5 separate regions of the Homo sapiens genome follow, and regions 2, 3, 4 and 5 are each linked to region 1. The links come from fine-mapping of genetic effects on gene expression. A gene starts in region 1. Each other region holds a variant in brackets. All regions are shown on one strand. Distances are from middle to middle.

Region 1 (5,128 bases):
TAGGCAAATGTTTTCTATAATGGGCCAAATATTAAATATTTTAGGCTTTGCAGGCAATGCATGTGGTCTCTGTTGCCAACTACTCACTTCTGCCACCGTAGCATGAAAACAGCCATACGTAATAGATAAATAATGTGCATGGGTATATTAAACTTTTATCTATAGATACTGAAATTTGATTTTCACATAGTTTTCATGTCATGAAATATCCTTCTCCCTACCCCCAGCCTGCCCCCACAAACATTTAAACATGTCAAAATCATTCGTAACTCCTGGGTCATACAAAAACAAACAGTGGGCTAGACTGGCTTACAGACTGTAATTTGCTGACCCCAATCATGGCTACTGATCCAGCTGTATGACCCTGGAAAAATAAGCTCCCTGTGCCTCAAATTCTTCATCTGTAAAACAGGTATTTATTTACTTTATGGGATTGTTATGAGGATTCAATGAGTAAATTTGTGTAAAACAGAATGGGGCCAGTCATATAGTAACTGCTCAATACATGATAGCTACTACCATCACTACCACCACCTATTCACAACTTGTCTAGTTTCCCCTGTAGAAGAAACTAATCTGTAGGACTGTAGGAAGTCTGACTGGGGACAGCATATATAGCCATAGTCATGGGATAGAGCACTTGTAGACCCAATTAGTGACTTAGGTTCATTAGCTCCTTTTTTTTTTCTTTTTACTCCCAAGTATTTTCAGTTTTAGAGGTCACAGCCCAATGCATTGGTTAATCTGAGCAGTGTACAGTCTGGGTAAAGAACATTTACATGCCATGATGTTACGAATGTATCATCAGTGTTAGAACTAGAGGAGAACTTAAAAGCCATCTTTATTATGACTAAATGTCAACACACAGTAAGTAAATTGTTAACTTTATAAAATGTACAAATATGTTACTCTCCTCACCACAGGGTTTCTTTGGAAGTAGAATATAGGGAAAAACACCTGTGTCTGTGTGTAATGCAGTGTCAGGAAAGACACTGTACCAAAGACAAGATTTCAAGAGTTATTTCAGTAATAAACTCAGAAAAATTACATTTCAAGGAAGAAAACATTAACCAGCAAAAGCAAAAGTTAGCAAGCAAGGAACAAGTGCAGAGAATGGTAACACTAAATACTTTCACATGATTAATATGGTTCTAACCCACCCTGTCTCCATTACCAGCTCAGACTCTGAGAAACCCAATTGCTCTTCACCTCAGCTCTGCCCTCACTTTCCTTTTCCACTAACTCAACTAGTTCCTACCTCCCAGCTCTTTTTGCTAATAAGCCATTTGATATTCACAATCCTCCAAGAGAGACAACTCTACCTGTTTTCCAGAAAAGAAAGTACTTAATTAACACTGACTATTATCATCCTCCTCATCAAGGTTTCTGTTCTCACAGAGGTTACATTCTTTCGGAGAAGACAAAAGAAACAAGTAAACAAGAGACACTATTACAATGATCGATGAACTGTTATAGGAGAAAAAATCATCACTAACAAGTGATTTATCTGAAATTTACTTTAATAGATTATATAAAGGTGCTACGGTATAATGACACCTATGTTGCAAAGAAACGGCTGCAAGGCTTAGAGTGACAGTGCCAGACACTTTGCGTTAGTTGAAAATAACTGATTGCTATTAGATATTTTCCCTAACGGTAATTAATCTCACCATCTCCGGTTCTCCCAATGTATTCTACCTAGAGTGAATTTCTAACTCAGCTCGTGTCACCAATAACGTAATAGCGTGCATGTTTTTCTCTCTCATTAAGAATGCAAGAGGTAGAGGTTTGTCTTAATTATGTTTCCACCTTCAAGGGAAGGTCAATAAATATTCACTGAACAAATATTACTGCCATACAACTGAGATGTTCTCTAGCAGTTTCCCCTTGGCCAGGCTGCCTCTGAAACACGCCCCAGGAGGACTGCAAGTGCCAAATCAGCACGTGGACGTGACCGGATGGCGAAATATTAATAGGACAGGGAGGGGTTAAAGAAGGGAAGCCCGTGGTAAATGGGAAGGGAGAACCGGACTGCTCCAGGACAGAGTTAGAGGCCAAGGAGGGTGGTTTTCCTGGGAAGCTAACAAAAGAAGTCACTCACGTCATAGGTGTGGAAACTCTTGCCCACGCAGGTTGTTACATAGAACCGGCGCTTGAGCGCGCTGAACCGCACCACGTGTGGAATGTCGTTGCTGAAAAGTCCCAAGGCCCGGAACCCCGCAAAAAGCGCGCTGGCCGTGCGCCTTTCTGAGGCCCGTTCCATTGCCGCCGCGATCCCAGCTCCTCTCAGCTCTGGTCCTGAAGGAAAACACGTACCCAGTCCCTTCAGCGTGTCTAGTGGAACAGTCCTCTGCCAGAGCTGCAGACACAACACCGCTTCCGGCGCCCGCTGCGAATCGCGTTTCCGGAGACTGCCCTCAGTGCAACACATAAAGTTCTCCCTCCAGAGCTCACATGGGAGGCGTGACTTGGGTTCCGAGGGCCAAGGTCTCCAGCACGTTGCCTAGCATTGTTCTCCAGCTCTTTTGCGGTGGAAGGAAGCTCGTTAGGTTCCGACAGAACCGCAAGGGCGGGAAACAAAGAGGGAAGCGCGACGCCCAGGAGAATGGAGGGGAGGTCGACGCCTTGGAGATGGAAACGATTTAAACATGTGATTATTTAAAAATGTACAAAAACATGAGACTGGAAAAATTTAAACACTGGATATCTGATGATATTAAGGAATTATGTTTCATTTTTACATATGATAGTAGCATTATGATTACGTTTTTAAAGATCCTCATCTTTTGGATACATATTGACATATTTACAGATGAAAACTATAATGGGACATTTCAAAACTGACAGAGGGATTCACTCACAGACCCTCTGGGGAGTAGAACTAATTACTTGTGGGGAGGGAACTGCTCACTTGGGCAACTTGGATAAGTGTAGATTCCTCCCAGAAAAGGAAGATAAATATTAAATGTTATTGGGATTCCTGGATTAAGTCAGTATTCCTTGAGGTCGGCTGTCAAAAGCAGACAGTAGAGGTTCTAAAGAGGAGCTTATCATAATGCAAACGGGAGTCCGGGCAGTTCATTAGAGCTGAGTGCCTTAGGATGCTGAAGGAGACTGATTCCAGTGAAGTGGGTGTCAAGACGCCTCACTCCTCAGGAGCCAGCTGCCTTACCAAGATGTAGGTTTGGGGAACAATCTCTGAGCATGTGAACATTAACTAAAACAGTGGTGAGCTTAGAGCCCAGGACCAAAGTTCAACATATGGAATAACCTCTTCTCTTACTGTTTTATTTCCATTTCATTTCGTTTATGAAAACGTTTTGGCAGCCTATTAAGGTTTGGGTCGAGTGACTAACGTAACTATACTAGTACTTGAGAGGGATAAAAAGGGTATATTTACTAATGTAAATGTACTTGAAAGAGATAAAGAGGGTCTGTCTCTACACAGATCAGTGTACTCTCTCGGGTTCCTTCCAGTTCTAAAATGTAATTATTATGAAACAAAAGTCACTTGTTAGCTAATTTGAATACCTGACTCATACATTCTTGAACAAAAAAAATCTTGATTTATTTTATAGTTCTTGGCACAAAGCCTCAAACACTTTGGATGTTAAGATCATTAAGGGGCAGATGCTAACAGAATGAGAGCTTGTTATTTAGTCCTTGACATGTTGTACTTACTTGTATTTTCATTTGTACCCCGGATTTCTCAATAGCAGTGCACATTTTCAGCCATGTTTTTGGTATGACTTAAAAGTGAACAAGTTGCTAATTATTTGTAAATGTTCTTTAAATTAAAAAAGAGGGGAGAGGGGAGGAGCCAAGATGGCCGAATAGGAACAGCTCCGGTCTACAGCTCCCAGCGTGAGCGACGCAGAAGACGGGTGATTTCTGCATTTCCATCTGAGGTACCGGGTTCATCTCAGTAGGGAGTGCCAGACAGTAGGCGCAGGTTAGTGGGTGCGCGCACCGTGCGCGAGCCGAAGCAGGGCGAGGCATTGCCTCACTTGGGAAGCACAAGGGGTCAGGGAGTTCCCTTTCCTAATCAAAGAAAGGGGTGATGGACGGCATCTGGAAAATTGGGTCACTCCCACCCCAATACTGCGCTTTTCCGACGGGCTTAAAAAACGGCACACCACGAGATTATATCCCGCACCTGGCTCGGAGGGTCCTACGCCCACGGAGTCTTGCTGATTGCTAGCACAGCAGTCTGAGATCAAACTGCAAGGCGGCAGCAAGGCTGGGGGAGGGGCGCCCACCATTGCCCAGGCTTGCTTAGGTAAACAAAGCAGCTGGAAGCTGGAACTGGGTGGAGTCCACCACAGCTCAAGGAGGCCTGCCTGCCTCTGTAGGCTCCACCTATGGCAGCAGGGCACAGACAAACAAAAAGACAGCAGTAACCTCTGCAGACTTAAATGTCCCTGTCTGACAGTTTTGAAGAGAGCAGTGGTTCTCCTAGTACGCAGCTGGAGATCTGAGAACGGGCAGACTGCCTCCTCAAGTGGGTCCCTGACCCCTGACCCCTGAGCAGCCTAACTGGGAGGCACCCCCAGCAGGGCACACTGACACCTCACACTGCAGGGTACTCCAACAGACCTGCAGCTGAGGGTCCTGTCTGTTAGAAGGAAAACTAACAAACAGAAAGGACATCCACACCAAAAACCCATCTGTACATCACCATCATCAAAGACCAAAAGTAGATAAAACCACAAAGATGGGGAAAAAACAGAACAGAAAAACTGGAAACTCTAAAAAGCAGAGTGCCTCTCTTCCTCCAAAGGAACGCAGCTTCTCACCAGCAACTGAACAAAGCTGGACGGAGAATGACTTTGATGAGCTGAGAGAAGAAGGCTTCAGACGATCAAATTACTATGAGCTACGGGAGGACATTCAAACCAAAGGCAAAGAAGTTGAAAACTTTGAAAAAAATTTAGAAGAATGTATAACTAGAATAACCAATACAGAGAAGTGCTTAAAGGAGCTGATGGAGCTGAAAACCAAGGCTTGAGAACTACGTGAAGAATGCAGAAGCCTCAGGAGCCGATGCCATCAACAGGAAGAAAGGGTATCAGCAATGGAAGATGAAATGAATGAAATGAAGTGAGAAGGGAAGTTTAGAGAAAAAAGA
Region 2 (5,128 bases), 79 kb before region 1:
TATTTCTCCTTTTATTAAGAACATTATCTTGCGTGATATTCCAACAATACTGAATTATTGTGACTCTTCAATGTCTTCAGCATTGACCCACTCAAGAACAAAAAACAGACCATCAGTCTTATCTCAAGATTCTAGCACCGAGGTAGGAAGAAGGCTTAAGTCCCTGTTGGTATTAACTTATTCCCCTAGTTTATCTACTTGTGGATGGCTCTTTAAAGAAACTCACATTATTATTAGGTGGTTTTTGTTTTTTGTTTTTTTTTGGTATGGTGTGTTGATAAGTTTTACAGAGTCTGTGCTCTGATTTTGCCAGCAAATTAATGAGATAAACTTAATAAGGTCTTTAACAGGGTGGAAACAAATTGCTGGGAGCCTATTTCTGCTTTTAAAAACCCTTTCCAAGTGTCTTCAGGTAATAAAAATAAACATTAGAAATAACTAGGAAATCAATGGAGTTTGGGGGACAGTTAAGAATCGAAACCATTTTTTCAGTAAATTCTCAAGATAACAGAAATGCCTAGGTAAAGAAAAAAACTGAGGTGTGGACTGGAGAGAATCAAAACAACATAGTTCTATGTATCAGCTCTGAAGTTTGCCACATGTTCTGACCTCATTCCAAGGTTTAGAGGACAAAATAAATGGGGGTGTGGCTTGGGGGTGGGGCTTCAAAAGCTGTGTGTGTGACAGGTTCAAACTCTCTCAGGGCTGTTGTTCTGTGGACTGAAGCCCCACCCCAACCTCATTGCTAGGAAAGGAGGCAGCCTAAATCAACAATAAATACCGATTCAGCACCCTGGGGCATCAGCCCAGTTCCACTCTTAAGCATTATAGCCGAAAAATAATATTCTGATTTCCATATAAGAGAAGTAGGGGTTGGCTAAATTCCAGCCCTGAAATTCACAGACACAGGGTAGCACTAGCTAAAAATTAAAGTTTTTAAAAATTTTTTAGTATTTTTTTTGTTTAATGAGTACAGTTCTTCCTAGTTGTACCTCATCTTTTTGCTCAAAAACAAAGCTTAGTAAAATCCCCTGACCTCAAAGCTAAGACTGCCTTGATAAGCAAATTTTAATGTACACTCAAACCCACAAAATGTTTTTATTTCTTTAAGTAAAAAATGAAAAGATGGTTGGATAACCTAGGACCAGTGATGGGAATGTGGAATAGAGAAGTTGATGTTCACTTAGGAAGGTCTTGGTAAAAGGAGGCAGAAAAGAGGGTTAGGAGAAGGTAAGGAGTAAGGGGCATAAAGAATAAGTCACTTAAAATAACCCTAATGCAAAATAGTGCTGTCAGATTTCTGGTTTATATTAGAAATATAATATAACATGTGTAACTGATTCCCATGAGAATAGGTTAATTTACAAAAGAGTCACCTGACCTGGAAAACAAATTTAAAATCGTGTTTGAAATTTGCATTATTAAGAACTGATAGCTTAACATTTCTTCTGCACTTCCCATTACTTAATCACTGCTAAAAGTACATGTACAGTTTCTCTTGAGATCTAAACCAGTGTTCGTGCAATTTAACAAAACCACCAGCCTTGTATTGCTGGAAACAAAACCTAGAACATTTTCTAAATCATAATGATTTCTAGGTTTGCCCGCCTGATTATGGTAGGGGTTTTTGTAACGAACCATAGATTATTACCACAACCTATGTCCCAGTGCCTAAATTATGCACATCCATATTTTTCTCGAGAAATTTAGATCTTCTACGTTTTCTCAAAAGCAGATGCTTTTCTTCTTAGACAATATTTTGAAACGTATTCACAAGACCCTTAAAATAGAAGGGAAAAACCAAAAGTGTGCATTTTAAGAGATGTATTGCCATAGTTCTTAATTGCAGGAGAAAGACATTCTGGTTATTTAAGAAAAAAAGAATTTATTGTAATAATCTTGCATTGATCTAAGAATCTCAGAGGAAGATGGAGAAGGTGCTCACAAGCTATGCAGGCAGAAACAATACTTAAAATAATCCAGCAGAAGTGGTCTGCTTGGAACACCAATATCATCATTACTGACATATGCACTAAGTACTTCAGTTTGTACTGCCAATATCACTAGCACTGGATTCTGGACACAGCCATAGCATGACTGCCATGGCTGTCCTGAAAACTCCATCTCACTGCAACCACTGCTGCTGCCAGAGGTTTCTCGAGTTTCCCATGCTCTACGTTACTAGCTTGCAACTTACAGATGCATTTGATTAGAGAGCTACATCACATGCTCACACTCTCAATACAAGGAAGGCTGGGAGAGAAATACGTAGCATCTTCAACCTCTATATTAGGAGATGGCTTCTCCTCCTACCAAAATGTATGAGATGAGGAATTCTTCAAACATAGGAAGAAGGCTTAGATGCTGGGCAGGCAAAAAGAATGACAAATGTCTAAGCAAAAAAGATAAGGTTATACTACTATATCTGTGCACAGTCCTTTGTGATCTCTTTCATGAGCTCCTCTTCTACATGTTGCTGCTTCCTTCTTTGCTCTCTTCTCTGATCTGCACACACACTCTTGTGATCTCATCTACTCTCACAGTTCAATGGCTCTTAAATATAACTCTTTAGCCACCTTCATTTACTTAACTGTAGCAGAGACTGCTCACCGTCCACCAAAATCCATTATCTTCTTCCTTCATAGAAATGGAATTGCAAGTTGACATAGACGTTCCCAGACATACAGAATTTCCCAGTCTTTTTTGACATTAGTTGTGACCACGTTCATTTCTCCTCAAAGGAATGTGAAAAAATGTGTGTGCCATTTCCAGCTCTGAGACTTAAGATGTCCAGACCTGTTTCTTCCATGTTTCATTTTCTTTCCTCTTTGCAACATCTGGAATCTATGGAACCCAGCCTCAATGCAGATGATGACAAGGCTTTAAGGAATGGAAGAGCAACCTAGGAACCTGGGTTACTGAATAAGAAGCAGAGCTACGCACCAACCTGGAATGCTGACCTTGAACTAAGGTGTAAGAAGCTGTATTTAAAGGCCTATCTCAGGTAAGCTACTGGATTATTGTCAGTTATCTTTTTAAAGCTGTTTAGTCTTATGCTAACACACACACACACACACACACACACAC[T/ACACACACACACACACT]CTCACAAATTTACCATCTCTCTTAATAATACAAACCTTGGGTTGTCCTAGACCCCTCCTTCTCTCTTGCTCTCCAAATTCAACAAATCACTAAATTGTGTTATTTATACCCCATTGAACTATTTCTTTCTCTAAATCCAAAGCTACCACTTCAGTTTGGGCTCTTAGTTTATTGTTCCCAATGTGCCTTTGTTTAGTTGTCCTGTGTGTATTAAATGTCTTCTCTCTCTTTCTCTTTCTGTTTTTAGAGATGGAATCTCACTGTATTGCCCAGGCTGGACTCGGACTCCTGGGTTCAAGCAATTCTCCTGCCACGGCCTCCCAAAGTGCTGGGATTACAGGCATGAGCCACTGCTCCTGGTTTGCTCTCTTTCCTCTAGCTATTTTTTAAAGTGTTAATTTAATTTAATTTTAAGTTCCGGGATACATGTGCAGGATGTGCAGATTTGATATATAGGTAAACGTGTGCCATGGTGATTTGCTGCACCTATCAACCCATCTCTAGCTATTTTTACTCATCTTTCAGAACTCAACTTAGTTACCATCTTCAACCAGGGTCCCCAGTGATGTACAAATGTTCTTCCTCTGTGATCCACTAGCACACAGTGGCTATCTCTAGCTTAGCTATTGCCCTAAAACATTGAAATTAACTATAAATATGAATAAGTAGGCTGTAAAAACCTTGAGGCAGAGATTGCATCTGTCGATAGAATGACTATATTCCACTATTCAGATGTATAAAGAAATAATGACAACTTCACTCCCTTGCAATATCAGCCTTGCTGCTTGCCTAACACTGAGCTCCCTATGGGAGATTGCAGGAAATGCAGATACCTTTTATTGTGCATGAGAGCAAAGACAGACTCAGAGAGCAGTACTTTTGTCTGTTTCTTTACCTAAATCTCTCCCTTAGCCGCTACTAATCAATTATCTACAAAACAGTTTGAAGTTTTCTAGTCTTCCAAAAAAGCAAGGAGTAAGCCACTTATCTCTGGGACTGTCCCATTTTTTTCTGGGGATACTAACCACATTCCAGGGTCTTGGTCCAGGAGGGAGTCACACTGTTTTCTGACTTTCTTTTCTGTGTGAATGGAATCCTCCTTGCATTCTGTTTACATTATCTCTTTAAATTAATTCTAAAATCTGGAATCACATCCAGCTAGTCTCTTCATATATAAAAATAAAATGTGCAAAGAAAATTTGAAATTTACAATTCCTCTCACACAACAAATACTGGATTTCAATATTATTATCCTGATATAGATTGAAAAACTCTAATTTGGATATTCAAAAATGACTCCTTTGCATGCCTACCCTAGTGCTTATCTTCCTAGAGAATAAAGAGATGTCTCTGACAGAAGAGCAGTTCTCTCACTAGGGAAAAATACACGAAAACATTTTTCTTAGGTTAATTCCCAAGAGACAGAATCTGAGGTGGAGAATTGTGTGCAGGAAGTTTACTAGGGAGTGGTCTCAGCCACAATCTCATAGAGGAAGCTGGGGAAGCAGAGGGAGACATGGAATTGCTGTGCAGTTGCAATTAAGCCTTCAGTCATTCCCATGAAGTGCTCTGCAGCAAGAAATCAGAGAAATAATGAGAATGGCTTTAGGTTCTCATAAGGCAAGTGTGGTAGATTATCTTTTCCAAGATGGCCCTAACAATATTTCTCATTCTACATGCGTTTTTGCAATGTTACTTCTCCCACTCTGCCATTAGGAAATGAGATCTGTTTCCCATACCCTTGAATCTGGCTGGATGACCTGAAGCAGAAGTGATGCCATATAACATCTAAGGCTGGGCCTTAAGAGATCCCTGCCTTCTGACTTCGCTACTGAGAATAGTTCTCCTTGGAAACCAGCTACCATATAAGAAATCATGCTACCATGAGACCACCATTTTGTGAGGAAGTCCAAGCTACACATATGAAGAGAAACAGGATACAAGAGAAGCACAAAAATACAACATATAAATACGTAAATAAAGCCTTCTTGGACCTCTAAGGAACTAACTTAACTCAGTTGACTGAGTGACCTGGCCAAT
Region 3 (5,128 bases), 35 kb before region 1:
AAAAAGAAAATTAACAAATGTTTATATGTTCTAAAATAAACATACAAAAATATGTCCATCTTCACTAGTGAGAAATTTCTGATTTAAAACCAAAATAATTTTTTCAGAGTAATTAAATTACAAAAATCCAATAGCAAGTGTCATTAATTACATGGGGAAGCAGATGCTCATATCTTGCTCAGGGGAACTGTAACTTGATACAGCCATTCTGGAACCCAAATGGAAGTATCTCTTCAAATTAAAAATGGTTATACTCTGGCCTGAAATTCAAATCCTAAGCATATACCACAGAGAGAGCCTTATATGTACAAAAAGGGCTCATGTAGGATGATGTTCCTTTCAGCATTGTTTGTAATTATAAAGGAATAAAAAGAAGGAAAACTTCCTTAAGTGTCTATTATAGGCAAAGTACTGTTGGACAGTGCACAAGAGATTAGGTAAATGTGAATGTACCAAAATAAAAAACTCCCAAGTAGAAATAGCAAGTTGTACAATAATATACATACACGTATGTAAAAATCGTAACTATACATTTCCTGTGGCTGTAGATAATATATACACATTCCTACATTAAACACTCATAAAAACACTCTAAAAGAAGATCTAGGAGAGTTAAAACTATTACTTCTACAGAGGATATTGGGACTGAAGATGGTTTTCAAAAAGCACACAAGCAAAATGTAGTCATATATTACATGAGTAATTAAAAAACTGAAAGAGTGTGCACAGATTGATATATTTTAAGGAAAATATAGATAAAATTATATTTTCTATTTCTTTCCCTCCCTTGATGGAAACAGTACATGAAAGGTTCTAGAAGATTACCTGCCAAAATGATGTATTCTATCTAAATATATCTCTGGTAACAATACACTTAAGTCTTTATGCTCACTTTAAAAAGAGAAGAAAATTCGGTTCATGATTTCTGTAAGCAATACAATTTCAGTTCACAGCTCTTATCATTTTGTTTTAGTTATTTACAATCTTTACTAGGTATAGAATTATATATTGGGATTTTGCCATATTCCAATTTAGAATATAGTATTTAGGAAAGAGGAAAATAGTTTTTTAAATTAGAACTTAAGTCATGATTAACATTTCTGTCAGTGGCTTTAATAAGTCAATACACATTTCTAAAAGAAAAACGAAATTGAGTACAATAACCACATTGGCTTATTTCCTTAGTAGTTTATTAATTCTATCTTACATCATTAAATAAAAACATGAATATTAAAAGATATCACTGGTAAATGCCTTTTGAGGACTGCTTCTTTTGGAGATCATTCTACAAAACTCTCTTACCCTAACAACGAACGAGAATGCTACTGGTGTTCATATTCAAACCACTGTGTTTCATGAAAGACCCAACTTTTGAGGGTATAAACTAAGAATAGTTTTTAGAGCGCTATGCTTTAAAGAACTGCTTATTTTTAATTCATGTATTGCAAAAGTCTTGAACCATAAAAAAAACAAAACAATGATGATGAGAAAAAAAGAAAACTCCAGGGCTACCTGGGTTTGCAATGGTTGTGAAAGAAAAGTATACTCAGCATTTTCTTCCCAAATTAAAAGGTCCCCCCCAAAAAAGTGTAGCCAAAAAAAAAAAAAAAAAAACAAAACAAAACAAAATAAAAAAAACCCTGGCTTTGAAATACCCATTCTTGGCTGTGGTAGCAATAAACAATATTGCTAAAAATTGTTTGCAAGGATTTATGGAATTTTTACCTTTTCAGAGGACATTAAACTATTGTTATCTACATGTCTGCAGTGTCAGTAAAAGGCCATCTTCCAATGGAATTTGGAATTTCCCTTACCTATCCTTGGTATCAGTTTAACCATCTACAGCGACTTGCCTTGGGCAAGGAAGGGCCTCCCACATTTCTGATCCATGAACAACTTCCTTTCAGTACATTACAATGGAGAAAGCACTAGGCCACTGTTAGAAAGTTTTAATCTGTCACTGAAATACCAGCAGACTTTAGCCTGATTCCTCTCCTGCAACACAACAGGGCTGTGCTAGAAGATGATTAGTTTATCCTCCAACTCTGAGAGTCAATCATTCATATTTTTATCAAAGGCCACCGAGGAAAAAAGCATTCCTTTTTTCTTCATAACAGCATTTTTATAACTACATCATGTATCAGTTTTATCTGACATTTTCAATTTAATTCAGCAATACTTCACAGTGAACATGCAGCATCTCTTTATATGAAACAGATACTCAAAAAATATAAGCAGGTAATAATTTTTTAAAAATCATATAAAAGTTAATGTGAAGAGACTCAGAAAATAAATCATTTGAGCAGATTCTTTAAGTCTTCAAAACAAAAGGCAGGTGTAATTTATTTTTTTAACTTTTTGTAGAGATGGGATCTTGCTTGCTATGTTGCCCAGGCTGGGCTCAAATTCCTGGCTTCAAGCAATCCTCCCGCTTTGGCCTCTGAAAGTGCTGGAATTACAGGCATTATCCATCATGCCTGGCCGGGAGGTGCGATTTTATTTCAAGAAAGTATTTAGCATTTAAAGTGGAGATATACTGACTAGTCAGTAGTGCTAGCATTTATTTTCTTTTCACATTGACACTTGGAAAATAAGAAATGAGTTCAATTGAACCCATTTAATATGAAAGTCTTTGTTTAGTCACAAATTTATTTTTACAACAAAGCACTTTTGAGATAATTTAAAATACACATGCTTTGATTGAAGAGTGATTGCAAATGGGTCCAGTTTTCTTCCACCTGGGATGACAAATTTGTTATTTCTTCTAGGAGTACTGGCTCTGAAGGAAGCATTTTAAGGTGTAACTGCAAAGAAAAATATGATGATTGAACATTTAAGAAAATTAAAATTTTACCTAATCTGGATTCAATTTTTCTACCAAGGAACCACAAAAGACACTAGGTGAATATTTGTTTTCTTAAGCGCTGGTTTATTACTATCTCCC[A/C]TTTTCCCCTCCTCTATCAAACTTTTTTTATTATAAGGTCCTTTATGATACTGTGACTTCCTTGGTAGAATTAAAGTGGTCATCACTCCTCTCCACCTAAGGACAGTCCTGATACTTTTAAATAATCAGATCAAGTGAACTCATTTTAGGTATAAATGGGATAAAGAATCAAATCTATTATCACCAAAAATCGGCATCATCTACCTCCTTCAACACATTATACCACTAAAGTAGACCCTCAAAACATGAGTTCACCACTATATTAATCATAAAAGTAACAGTCTTATTGTCAAATGATCAAAACTCCTTTAATAATGATAGAAGTGAACATTTTGATTTCAGTAGTAGAAAAAAAAACAAACAAACCCAACTTTCTATTCATAATCACAAAAAACTTCCAAAATGTAACTAACCACTAAAAAAAGAAAAGTTAATGGTTCAGCACATTGGATCAAGCAGATAGCATAAAAATGTCAGGGGGTAAAGTCAAAATTATTGTGCAGTTGAGTAAAAAAACAAAACAAGACTCCCAAGCTGCACTGTCTAGCTGTCCAATGTGGTAGTCACTAGCCACATGCGGTTATTTAAATTTAAATTAATTAAAATTCTATAAAATTAAAAATCCAGTTTCTTGATCACACTATTTACATTTCAAGAACTCAATAGCTACATGTGGCAAGTGGCTATGATACTGGAAAGGATGGATATACAGCATACCCATCTTTGCAGAAAGTTCTGTTAGATAGCACTGCCCCAGAAGAAGACAAGCTGGGCAGTACTGTCTTACATTAGACTTACCTTTAGAAACAATGCAAGGTATGCCTGGGCTAACTCAAAATCACGCTTTCTGTCCAGCATCATCCCAATCATTTTCAAGAAGCTCTGCATAACTTCTATGGACCCACCACAATCAGGAGACAAGCTTCGCAGCTCTGTTTCAATTCCTGATGGGCCTGATTCTTTCAGAAGGTTGAGAGCAGTGTCATCTGCATTAAATTTTAATCCAGTTATGACTTGATTATAATCATTTAACTTAGAAAATTACAGTTTTCCTTTTATACCCCAAATAGGATATATTTAAATGGTACAGGAAATTCTTCCTGTGGGTTAATTTTTTCATATTATGTAGTAGAATGAAACCCAAAATAATTGAAAATCAGTACAAACGATGACACCAATATAAGAGAAAGTACTCAAAACACATTTTTTTTCTGTAATTTAAACCTTTTTCCTGTTAATAAAGAAAATCTAATGCCTTGCAACAGGCACGTTAGAATTTTAAAATGCTCATATATCTTCTCTCAGAGTAAATCCTAATTAAGAAGCCTATAACGATACATACAAAAGTATTAATAGTGGTTAGCATTGGGAATCTGATGAGGTAAAATAATTTTTCTTTTCTATTGTTATAAAGTTATAAAAGTACATAATCATTAGGAACTATATTACTAACAGTACAGAATATATAAAATCAGAGGGGGAAGACCCCATCCCTTATTCTTACCCAGCCCAAACCTACTTCTTTTCCCTAGAAGAATTGTTTCATATGCACCCTAGGAAAACACACTCAGTACACTTACAGCTATTTTTATGAGTCATTTGAGAACTGCAATGACTATGCTTTAGCTTTCTGAAAAAGAGTATCACCAATGACAAAAGTCTAATCACTTTTAGATCCTTCAGTATATAGTAAACAATAGTGTTTTTATTTCTTTGTCTCCCCATAAACATAACAAGTCATTTACAAGGGCTCATCAGTATCATTCTCTGACTTTTGCTAATGTGGACTCAAGTAATCTCGGTATGAAAACAAAAGCATTTGAATCAAAACAAGAGGACAAGTTAAAATTATTAGGAGAGTGACTACAGTTTTTTAAATGATTACAGTTCTTATGGCTAATCACTATTAGCTACAGACTGTAGCCTTCGAAATTTAAATATATGAACACAACAGACAGATTAAAACATTTCCTTTTTAATAAAATAATTTAGGAATATATGAAATCACCTAAGCAGTCCGCTGAATTACAAATTATAAATAAAAACAAAAGACTTGCAAATTACTTGCTACAAAAACGACAAACAAAACTTTTACATTTAATTCACAACAAGAAGGATCTCCTTATTATAAATATAGTCAATAACTGTGTCCATCTCCAATAGCAAAAAGTAAGTTAGATATAT
Region 4 (5,128 bases), 44 kb before region 1:
ATAGTGGCCAGAGGTATCTTTCCCATGCCTCTTTTATTTCCTGATTTAGGTTTTCTGAGGTCTGATGTCTAGAGCTGTGGTAGCCAGCTTGAGACTGTAAAATGACACACATAAGGAAAAAAAGTCTTGTTGTAAAAATGAAACAGAGGAAGTAGGGGAAAAAAAGCCTGTGTCTTTCTCAGGACCATTGAGTAATTGCAACATTGTGAAAAACTACTTTTAGATTTCTTGATGTACGAGAAAAATTAATTCCTACTTGTGAAAATCAAGGTTACTAAGTTGTTACTTGGTCTTGAAAATATTCTTTTTTTTTTTTTTCTGAGATGGAGTCTCACTCTTTTGCCCAGGCTGGAGTGCAGTGGCTCTACCTCAGTTCACTGCAACCTCCGCCTCCCGATTCTTCTGCTTTAGCCTCCCTAGTAACTGGGACTATGGGTGCACGTCACCACGCCCAGCTAATTTTTTGTATTTTTAGTAGAGATGGGGTTTCACCACATTGCACTGGCTGAGAAAATATTCTTAACTAATAGAGAATTGTTTCTCCTTTTAGGAAAACACAGAGCAAGATGTTTTTCCCTCTGTGAAGGACAGTATTTTATTATAGCTGCTGCTGTTTTTGCTACTAGAAGTTTAAGTGTGAAAACTTCCCAGTGTGTTGCGAAGCTGGGCAGCCAAGGGGAGGATTGTCCTACTTTTGACTCCCAACACTTTGTGAACACTATTCTATGCTTGGGGAATTCCCCATTTACAGTCTCTGCTTCCTGAACTCAGAACCCAAAACCTTCGTCTCTCAGCATTGGGTATAGGCCTGAGCCCTAGACTGTTCTAATGCACTAACATTACAATATGTTATGCACTACATATGCATTACAATATGGATGCACTAACATTACAATAGGAGTTGTAAGTGCCATGGAGAAGCAGATGCTGTGTGGACTCTGTTCAGTGAGGCATCAGGGACAGAGGTTCCAGTATCTAGGGCCAGTATCAGCCATGTGAACCTTGGGATGTTCTAGACGTAGTTCTCAGCCACGAAGTCTTCAAGGGACTTGGAAAAACCCTTAATGTACTTAAATAGTAGTTTCTGCTGAAAATAACTAAAACTGGTTCTGAGTAATACATTTCATTATGTTAATTAAAAAATTTTTGTTTATGACCTAATTGTTTTATTCTAAACTTTGCCATCTAGTCCTAATTGAACTCAATAGGTGACTGATCCAACTAAATCTGAGGTTGAATGGAGTTTTAAAACCTGAGACCAGCCCTGACCTCACTGGCTCTCTCAGAGGATGAAGAGCAGTACTGATTCATATTCCATGTCTTGGAACATCAGATTTAAGGCATTTTCAGAGATAAGCATTGGGTATTAGTATATGCTAGCACCTCTTGGTAAGGCTATGTATTTCTCTAACCAATCAATTGGTGCAATGATTCTCAACATTTTTTGTCTAAGGAGCCCTTCACTTTCTAAAAAATTATTGAGGATCTCAGTGTGACATTAATTATATCTGTTGATATTTCCTGTACTTGAAATACTGTGAGTAAACACAGTTTTATGAAAATAGTTTTTAATCATATTTTGCTGACCATCTGGAAATATTTGAAGGACCCCTAGGGAACACTGGACAGACAACTCTTAGAAAACCACTAAATTAGGTATTTATGGAACACTTGTGTGCACAAAATTGAGATGGGCTCTATAGCAAATTTGGACATTTAGCTGATGGCAGACAATGGGAATGAGACTTCCACACTGGCACAAAAGGAGGAAACCAACCCATCAAGGGCATTAGAGATGCAGGCAAACAGTGACAGACACTTTCCTGCATGATCTAAGTTTACCCTAACTGTCTCTGGGCAGTGCTATTTATTGAGGAGTTTTGCTGCAACAAAGGCTATGAAAAAAAAAGGCCTTGTGTTTCATAAAGGAATAATATTTTAAGGATTAGTATTTTTTTAATAGATAAAACTGGTTTCAAGTGACACAAAGTATGGTGTATTTGCTGCATGA[T/C]TGTCATTTCCCAGCAGGATGAGAATGGTAATTTCCATCTTTGAGTTCTGGTAAAGGGTAAAGAGATAAGCTAATGTGAGATTATGTTTTTCTTCAACACTTAGTTCATGTGGAATCAAGTGGATTATTTCTATTTGTCGCTGAGAGTGAAACTCTCCACCCTGATGTTCTTCGTGCTTTCTGGGAAATCTCAGGCAAGTACCACACCATTGAGATGAGGATCTCTTCTGCCAAGAGCCACCCTTTCCACCACTCCCTGGAGAAATCTCTGACTCAGTCAAGCTAGGTGACTCAGAACTCCCTCGGTTCCTCTGCCTTCCAATTCATGCCAGCTGGGCACAGAGAGAAAGAGACAGGGCTCAGTGCTGACCTGGAGACCATCTGCGCCTCATAAAGACCCAATGCCAGGGACTTGCATCGAAATGAATGTGGTTAGGTCAAGTGGTGGCCTGGAATTTTGGGAAAGGTCCAGTGACTTGGGTGGCAAACACAATTGCAGCTTCCAAAGGCCACCTTCCAGAGGAAATAAGATCTGGTCAGCCACACAAGATATATCTACGAAGTAGCATGAATGGATGGATGGATGAATGGTTAGAGATGTGTAAATACATTCTATTTGAAAAGCTAGACAAAAAAAAAGATTGAAATACAATTAAAAAAAACTAAACTAAATATAGAGTATGAAAATATATAGACATCAACACCTAGAATCAATAGTAGTTGATGTTTTATCTTATTTTGTTTAATTTAAAATTACACAAAACATTGCAGATAAAGTCTCCTTTGTACCCAGTTCCAGGGCCACTGACCTCTACACATTCCCAGAGGTAGCAGCTGGCATGACTTTGGCCATCCCTGACTTTCTATTGCCTTTCTCATGGCCTCATCTCTGAATGCTGTCCTGTCTCTCTCTGTAATACCATGCCCCTCCCACCCCCTTTGTTCAAGATCAATGGCAGTTGTCCTCTTTGTGCAGCCTGCCCTGGCTCCGAGAAGGCAGATGTGTGCTGCCTTTCCTCCTGCAAGGCTCATCTCCTGGACTGGGGGTCAGGCACCCTGTCTCATGTGTGTTGGGATCTCCATCTTGCCATACCCCATACACGATTATTTAGGAGGGAATGGGACAGGTTGAGAGAAGCACACAGTTCCACAGGCACCTTTTTCCTCACGTGTTGTAGCTTACATTTTTGAAGTACCTTCACTTCACCTCCTTGTCACCACAGCAACAGAGATGAACATCTCATCTCTGCCCCCTGCCTCCACCTTTCCACGCAGTGTGCCAAGAGCTAAAACTGCACCCAGGCCCCTGGGGGGTGGCCCTCAGCTCCAGGAGCCACGTCTGACAAACTACAAGGCTAATTCCTAGTCTCTGCTTCCCTATGCCTGGCCATCTATTATCAGCCAGAGAATGGAGAGGTGGAGTCTTCCAAGGGAAAAAAAAAACCAGTTTTTTTTCCTCCTTAATTGTTTTACTTCTTCATATGCACTGCTTTTCTAAGTTACCAAGCCCTTTGTTAAAACAAGAATGGTAGTGAAGCAGCATGCAGGCATTTTTTTTTTCATATGGAGGCTATTTGGGAATTCCTGTACACACACACAAACACGTGCACACACGTGTGCGTGCACACACACACACACACCCACGTATGCCACATTTTGAAATAAAGGGAGAAACTCCTGGCAGTCACTCTTTGCAGAGTGTGAAGGCCTAGAAACATCTTCTTCTTTATCTTGATTCTAAAAGAGAGCAAGTCAAAAGGCTAAGCAAAAGAATATAAAAGAATAATGAGCTAAAATACAAGCTTCATAGGACCGGGATTTTTATATGTTTTGTTTTCTAAAGTATCTCAAGAGCATAGAACAGCATCTGAGACAGGGTCAGAGCTAAGTATTTGTTGAAGATAGAATGAATAAATCAATGATTGAAGGAAGGAAAGAGGAGTGATCACAGCGCTGTGAGCTGGGTGGGGAGGCTGTCGGGTATGTGACTCCTTTGTTTGGTATATGATGCTTCTTGTAAACTAAATCCACATGGTTAAGTGAGTCCAGGCTTCGATAACTCACTCTCACCCACCATTCAGTCACCCAATGGGCTTGCATCATATTTACTCTAGAGAATAGAGTGTGGCCAGGAGTGAGGAAACAGGGCCAGAGTTATGAGGCAGACATCATACTTGGAAAGTTCAAATGAGAAAAAATAAATTAATAGTAAAGACTGGAATTTAGCCAGAGATAGTGGGGGAAAAAAAGGGCAGCCAAACAAAACAAAACAAAACAGAACAAAACCCCCGGCTTTGAAATATCCATTCTTGGCTGTGGTAGCAATAAACAATATTGCTAAAAATTGTTTGCAAGGATTTATGGAATTTTTGTGTTTTCAGAGGACATTAAACTATTGTTATCTACATGTCTGCAGTGTCAATAAATCACTAACAACACAGAGATAAAACTAAGTATTGAATATTTTACGTACCTTTTCAGAGACATTTAGTAGATTCAGCTGGAAATGGAAATTAGCATGGTTGGAATTGGGAAATTCAGCATATAGTACACAGATACTGAAAGAAAGATCCCTAAAGAATATTTTATATATCAAAATGATTAAATTTCATCTTGAGCCCTCATATTACTAGATTTAGGGTAGGGAACAAAATTACCAATTAAAAAGTATCTCAGTCTCTTTCACATTAGCCTAGTCTCTTTTGGATAAATATTTTGTGAGATTTTATGTTCAAATTCCCTACCATGTCTGTTTCTTTCCTCACAAAGGAAGGTTCACTATGTGTGAGTGCCTTCTGTGTTGCCAGACCCTCTTCTCACCTCCCCCGACCAGGACCACAGTCCCACTTAGCCTGTGCCCTGAGTCTCTGCCTATCTTCCAGCTGGGCCCTGGGCCAGGATGGTGTGTCCACACTCTGCCACTGGGGCTCTATGGCAGGCCTGTTGGCATTCTACTCCCAGCTGCCTCCCTCATTCCCCTCAGGGAGCAGGTGGAAACCTCCAGATCCCTCCCAGTGTCACCCACAGTCATGGAAACTCTGTGAGCTGTCACAGTCATTTCTTGCCACCTAAGTTAAGTCACACCCCTTGACTATGGCCACCATGTGTCAGGATAGA
Region 5 (5,128 bases), 270 kb before region 1:
ACATGGATGGTTCATTCAACATTCTTGCCTCTCAGTTCTTTTACCACTTCCTCGATTCTTCCTTAGCAACTCATTTCCATGACAACATCTCAGGCCTTCTTGTTACCATCAACTGAACCACATCACAAATCTTGATTTCAAACATTACACTCTCTGATTTCTACTACCTATCTTTAAAGCTCCTACTTGGCTTAGATTCTATGGTCCACTAGTATATACTAATAATGCCTTGGCCCTGTCCATTGTGCTGAACTCTCCTAGTATTCTTCCTCTTCTTTTACACCGGCTCACTGCTCATCTTCCAGGAAGCCAGGATAGTCTCCACTGTTGGGTCCTTTCACTTGGCACTTGATAGTACTCTGTCTCAGATGCTCTTTTCCCAGATTTTTCAGTGTGAGTTTAGGCTCAACAAAGAAGAGAATGGAAAGGATCACTGCACAGGGTGGGTGACGGTTTAGAGGTGAGGGCAGCAGCAAGCATTGGATATGGTGTGCTGGAACAAGAAGGAGACTGATATTGTAAGGAAAACCAATACTCCATATTACATTTAACACTGACTAACATGAAGCCAACCTTGTTCTGATCAGTATGGGAAGACAGGCTGTAATCATCAGATAAGCTTGTCTTTGAGCATTGTAAAACCCAATATTTTATAGCTCTGTTACTAGCCACTTCCTATTCCCTGCAGACTCTAAGACATTGGGAAGAACAAAAAGAAAAAAGAAGGGATTTCCAATAGAGGAGGAAGCCCAGGATTGAAATAAGAGTCTAGGCAAAACAAGAGTGCCTCTGGGAAGCTTAACCCAGAAAGACACTTCTATTTCAGAACTTGAAGCCTTTGTAAGACACGTAGATTCAGAACAGAGCAGCATCTCCAAAGGGAGTTACCTCTCTCCCTTCATTCTTAGATTCTAAATACAAACCTATGTGCTTGCAGATACCAGAAATTCTTTTCACAGGAAACAGTCTTTTTATTTTGCAATGAATGAAATAGGCTTAAAATATTCCTGGGAGATATAACAAGCTAAACAAAGTTAATACAAAGAATTTGGCTGATGCCCGACTCTCAACAGAAAGAGGTTGGGCTTAGCAGAGGCAGGGAGAAGAGGAAAAGAACCTGATAGATAGAGCAGAAGAAGAATCTTCATGTCTTTACCCAGCACTTTTTTCTCTTGCTTCTTTTATCTGTATCTCCCTGGGATCTAGAACACACGAGCATGATCCTGATTAATAACTCTCATCTTTAAAAAGGTCTCTCAGTCCCTTACCATCCCCTCCCACTTCCAAAGCATATCTCTGCTTCCCTTCACAGAAAACCTCTCTATTGTTGCCTCTGCACTCTTTCTTCACTTCTTCACCTGGGAGTAGAGGAAATAAAATGGATTATTTCATGTCACCATTCTGGTCTGATTTCTCTCCTACTTTAAAGGCAACAGCAATGTTATAATATTTCCTAACTTGCCTCACTGCTTTGATCCTTACCCTTTATATTCAGTCCTTCTACACACAACATCCAGAATGATATCTTTAAAATGTAAATCAGATCATGTTACTCTCAGCTTAAATGCCTTTGTTGGAGTCCCACTGTGCTTAGAGTAAGTATAAACTCTTTGCCATAGACCTTAAAACAGGATGGCTTGGCCTCACCCTATTGGTCTGATGTCACTGTCCTTCATATGCAGGCCATTCAACTAGACCAAGCTTCAAGGCCTTTGCATTTGCTGTTCCCTCTTCCATCAGGCCTCTTTTTTCACTTGGTTCATTGAGAGTCACCTAGAGGCCTTTCCTGGCCACTCCATCAAAAGTAGTTACACACTAACACACATACAACATACACACATACACACACGGTGAGTCATACCATTCAATTTTTTATAACAGTCACAAAAAGCTATGTTATCATTTAGTTACTAATTCATCATCTATTTCTTCCATCGGAGCATGAGTTCTATGACAGAAAGGATCTTGTCTGTTTTCTACATATGCTATCTTTGGCGTTATTTACCAATACCTGGCATTTAATAACTTGTTAAATGAATGAATGAGGTATGGAGGCTGGTGATTGAATACAAAATGCTGGCAGCTCAAAGAAAAAAAATTCTGGTTTAACATTAAGCTTCAGTTAGATGAGATTAGAATTGGTTGGTCAGTTCTCATCCTGCCACTTAAGTCTACATGACATTTTTTCATGTTATTGACACCAGTGGAGTGGAGAATGTCTGTTTCAAAGAGCCTCTAGATTCTCTTTCAAGGTAAGTGAAGAACACTTGGAAAAATATAAATTATTAATGCACAGGTGAAGTTACTGACCTTCTAAATCCACTGCAGCAAGTACTGATACTCCTGCTCACTCTTCTCCCCCATTTCAGGCTATAGAGCTT[T/C]TATAGCTGCCAGATAGAAATCCCGTACTTTTCCTTCCAACAGCACACCTTGCGTTTAATTTGAGTGTTCCATCATTTGTATCAAACACAACCAGAGTGATTAAAAGAGAATGAAATGATAGAGATTAGAAAATGATAATGGTGAGAATTGGAATGTACTATCCATTCTCAAAGAAGCAACTATGATATCCTTGGTAAGCAGAAAAGAATTCTATGGATGTAGCTGTGGATATTTTGACTTGCCTCTGTGCCCTCCATGGGCACAGAGCCTGGCTGGGTCTTTACTCCTCATATTTCCCAAGAAGGTGCCAGCATCAGCATGGTCTTATGAAAAAGAAACTGATTAACAAAGAGAGAATTAATGTTAAGCCTCCCAAATTATTTTTTAAGATTCATGTTGTCAGGGATAGAAGGAAATCAACACATATTATATATTTTTCTAGAAGTATCATAGTCACATTTAAAAATATAGAAAATATAAAAAGAGTGAGGAATATATCCACCATTGTAACACAACTAATCATTAGCATTTTGGTTTATTTGTTTTCAGATATGTATGTATACTTCTTTTTACATTTTCAAATATAAAAATATTTGAAATTTTGTTATCTTTTACACAAAAACATAATAAAAATTTTATGAATATCTAATATCCATAAGCAGAATGTAAAACACCTTCCTAAGGCCCAATGTCATCAATGCCTAGCCCTAATGTTAGACATGAATGATTCCTTAAGATTTATTACTAATATATTCTATAATCAGCATCCTTGTCTGTACATTTTTTAAAGAATTCAATTTGAATCCTGGCTTGATCATTTAGAGTCTTTAATCAAGTCCCTTAATCTATATGAGGACTGCTTCAATTTCATCATGTGTAAAATGGGGATAATTGTTATTCTGGAATATTATTGTTTTAAGGATTGAATAAGAGTATGTGTGAAATTTCCTAGTCCCTGTGAAACGTTCACTAAATGTCAGTGCCTTTCCTAGAATGACTTTTCAAATCAAAGTGAGCATTTCTAATCTTCTGTTTCCAATTTTTTAATTCTTAACAGAGAAGGCACTACAATTGCAGCATACTAAATTTAGAAATATAGGGATTTATGAAAATGTTCCACCCCAGTCAGAGAAAGTATCTACTAAACATGAAACACAATTTTATTTTTATTGTTATTCTAAAAAATTTTCTAAAAGTGAATGACAACTTCATCAGAATCCTAAACTGTATCCTAATATAATCTTCCTGCCTGAGGTTAATCAAAAAGAAAACTAATGCCTATTTTCACTTAAATAAATGCCTTCTCTCACCTTTTCTGAAGACTAAGAGCTGCACTGTCCTGTTTAAACTTTAGGGAGGTTTTAAGACAATTTCATATGTTTACTAATCACTGTCAACCACCAGGGTCACATCTAAGTTGACCATAAACCTGGGTATCAACCATGTCCTTTATATATTCAAGTCTGACAGAGGTGTAATATACTCCGTCCTTTCTTCTTAGTGCCTTTTAGTAATTTTTATATGGTAAAGACAGTAATTTTGGTAATTTTTATGACCATTTCATATGACCAAGATTTTTAAATTATCAAGAAGCCATGAAAATAATGAAATATAGGTTTTCATTGTATATTATTTCAATCAAACAACAATGATTTATGTGCACAATTCCCAAACTTTAATTTGAGTGATTAAAGGGGCACAATATTATATACACTCAGAGACCCTGAGATATTCCTTTGATCTTTTCCTTGATCCTTAAAACTAAGTGATTTTCTATTAGTTACAAAGCCAAAAAAGCTTATGATTTTGTATACTGTTAAATAATAAAAATAAAAATAATACTCCTGAAAGTATTAACATTTTAAGCTTCATCAATTACATCTTAGGGTTCAATGGAAAAAATAAAAACCTGGATGCTCTTAGAAGAAAGCTTAGCTCACTGCCTATTCTTTCAAGGACAATTCAGACCTTTTTCAAAGAACCTGGCTAATGTTGTTCATGAATGCTAAAAACTTGGTGGAAAGAGAGGCTCTCACATGGTTCTTCTAGAGTTATTCATGACCAGAAAAGTACAGAAGAAATTAATGTTGAACCAAAAAATAATATAATCATACTCTTGGTTTAGAATGGGAAAGACAGAGATTCTAGAGATCTTAATGATTTGAGGTTTGATAAAAAAAATTTCTTTGTCAGTGTTGCCCCATAGCAATATATTCTTTCTAGATGTAGAAGTCTAGATTTTCTGAGGTAGCATTTTAACATGAATTGAACCCAGAGCTTCACTTTTCTCTGAAAGACCAGATAAACAAAAGTGTGTCAGCTCAGTCCTTCCCAGCATCTTTCTCCATACAGTGGTGTGCACATCCTCAAAGCACTCTCTCATCAGCATGTCTGTTAAGTCTCTTCTTCTGAGTAAAACTGCTCACAGTTTAAAAGCTTGTAAGAGTTAATTGGGTAGTATGCACACATTCCATGTTTATGCCCTATTATTTCTCCATCTCTGATATTTTCCAAGACTGTCCGGTTTCAAAGGATATGGTGGCCAAGGGGCTTGTGACCCCTGGACTGGTTTGGTCTCTGAGTGTGTGTTCAGTATTTATTGGCCTCTCCCATAGAGCCAGTGAGCACATGATCTGTCCCTAGTCATCTGTAGCTGTAGATTTCCTGACCTATCCAGGTCTCTACTGCAGACAGCATCTGGCAGTGGCCCTGGTATGTGGCCTCTTCATGCTCACCACGCTTCCCT

The links. PIP is the estimated chance that this variant, and not a neighbour inherited with it, causes the effect.
Region 2: its variant is fine-mapped to the expression of WDR36 in neutrophils (BLUEPRINT, PIP 0.95).
Region 3: its variant is fine-mapped to the expression of WDR36 in whole blood (TOPMed, PIP 0.98).
Region 4: its variant is fine-mapped to the expression of WDR36 in prefrontal cortex (BrainSeq, PIP 0.95).
Region 5: its variant is fine-mapped to the expression of WDR36 in whole blood (INTERVAL, PIP 0.99).

Annotation. Positions count from the first base shown.
Region 1 is chr5:111,089,592-111,094,719 of GRCh38, reverse strand. It overlaps WDR36 (WD repeat domain 36), which reads right to left and starts at 2,372. Exons shown (of 23, transcript NM_139281.3): 1 at 2,102-2,372. The coding sequence starts at 2,263. RefSeq lists an enhancer at 2,083-2,522.
Region 2 is chr5:111,168,247-111,173,374 of GRCh38, reverse strand. No RefSeq gene overlaps it. Among named protein-coding and RNA genes, the nearest start is that of CAMK4, 54 kb to the left of the region's middle. The variant T/ACACACACACACACACT (reference allele first, on the strand shown) is at 3,088.
Region 3 is chr5:111,124,410-111,129,537 of GRCh38, reverse strand. It overlaps WDR36 (WD repeat domain 36), which reads right to left. Exons shown (of 23, transcript NM_139281.3): 22 at 3,743-3,930; 23 at 1-2,804. The coding sequence ends at 2,655. Among named protein-coding and RNA genes, the nearest start is that of WDR36, 35 kb to the right of the region's middle. The variant A/C (reference allele first, on the strand shown) is at 2,945.
Region 4 is chr5:111,133,318-111,138,445 of GRCh38, reverse strand. No RefSeq gene overlaps it. Among named protein-coding and RNA genes, the nearest start is that of WDR36, 44 kb to the right of the region's middle. The variant T/C (reference allele first, on the strand shown) is at 2,012.
Region 5 is chr5:111,360,308-111,365,435 of GRCh38, reverse strand. All of the region lies in intron 2 of CAMK4 (calcium/calmodulin dependent protein kinase IV), which reads right to left. Among named protein-coding and RNA genes, the nearest start is that of CAMK4, 140 kb to the right of the region's middle. The variant T/C (reference allele first, on the strand shown) is at 2,382.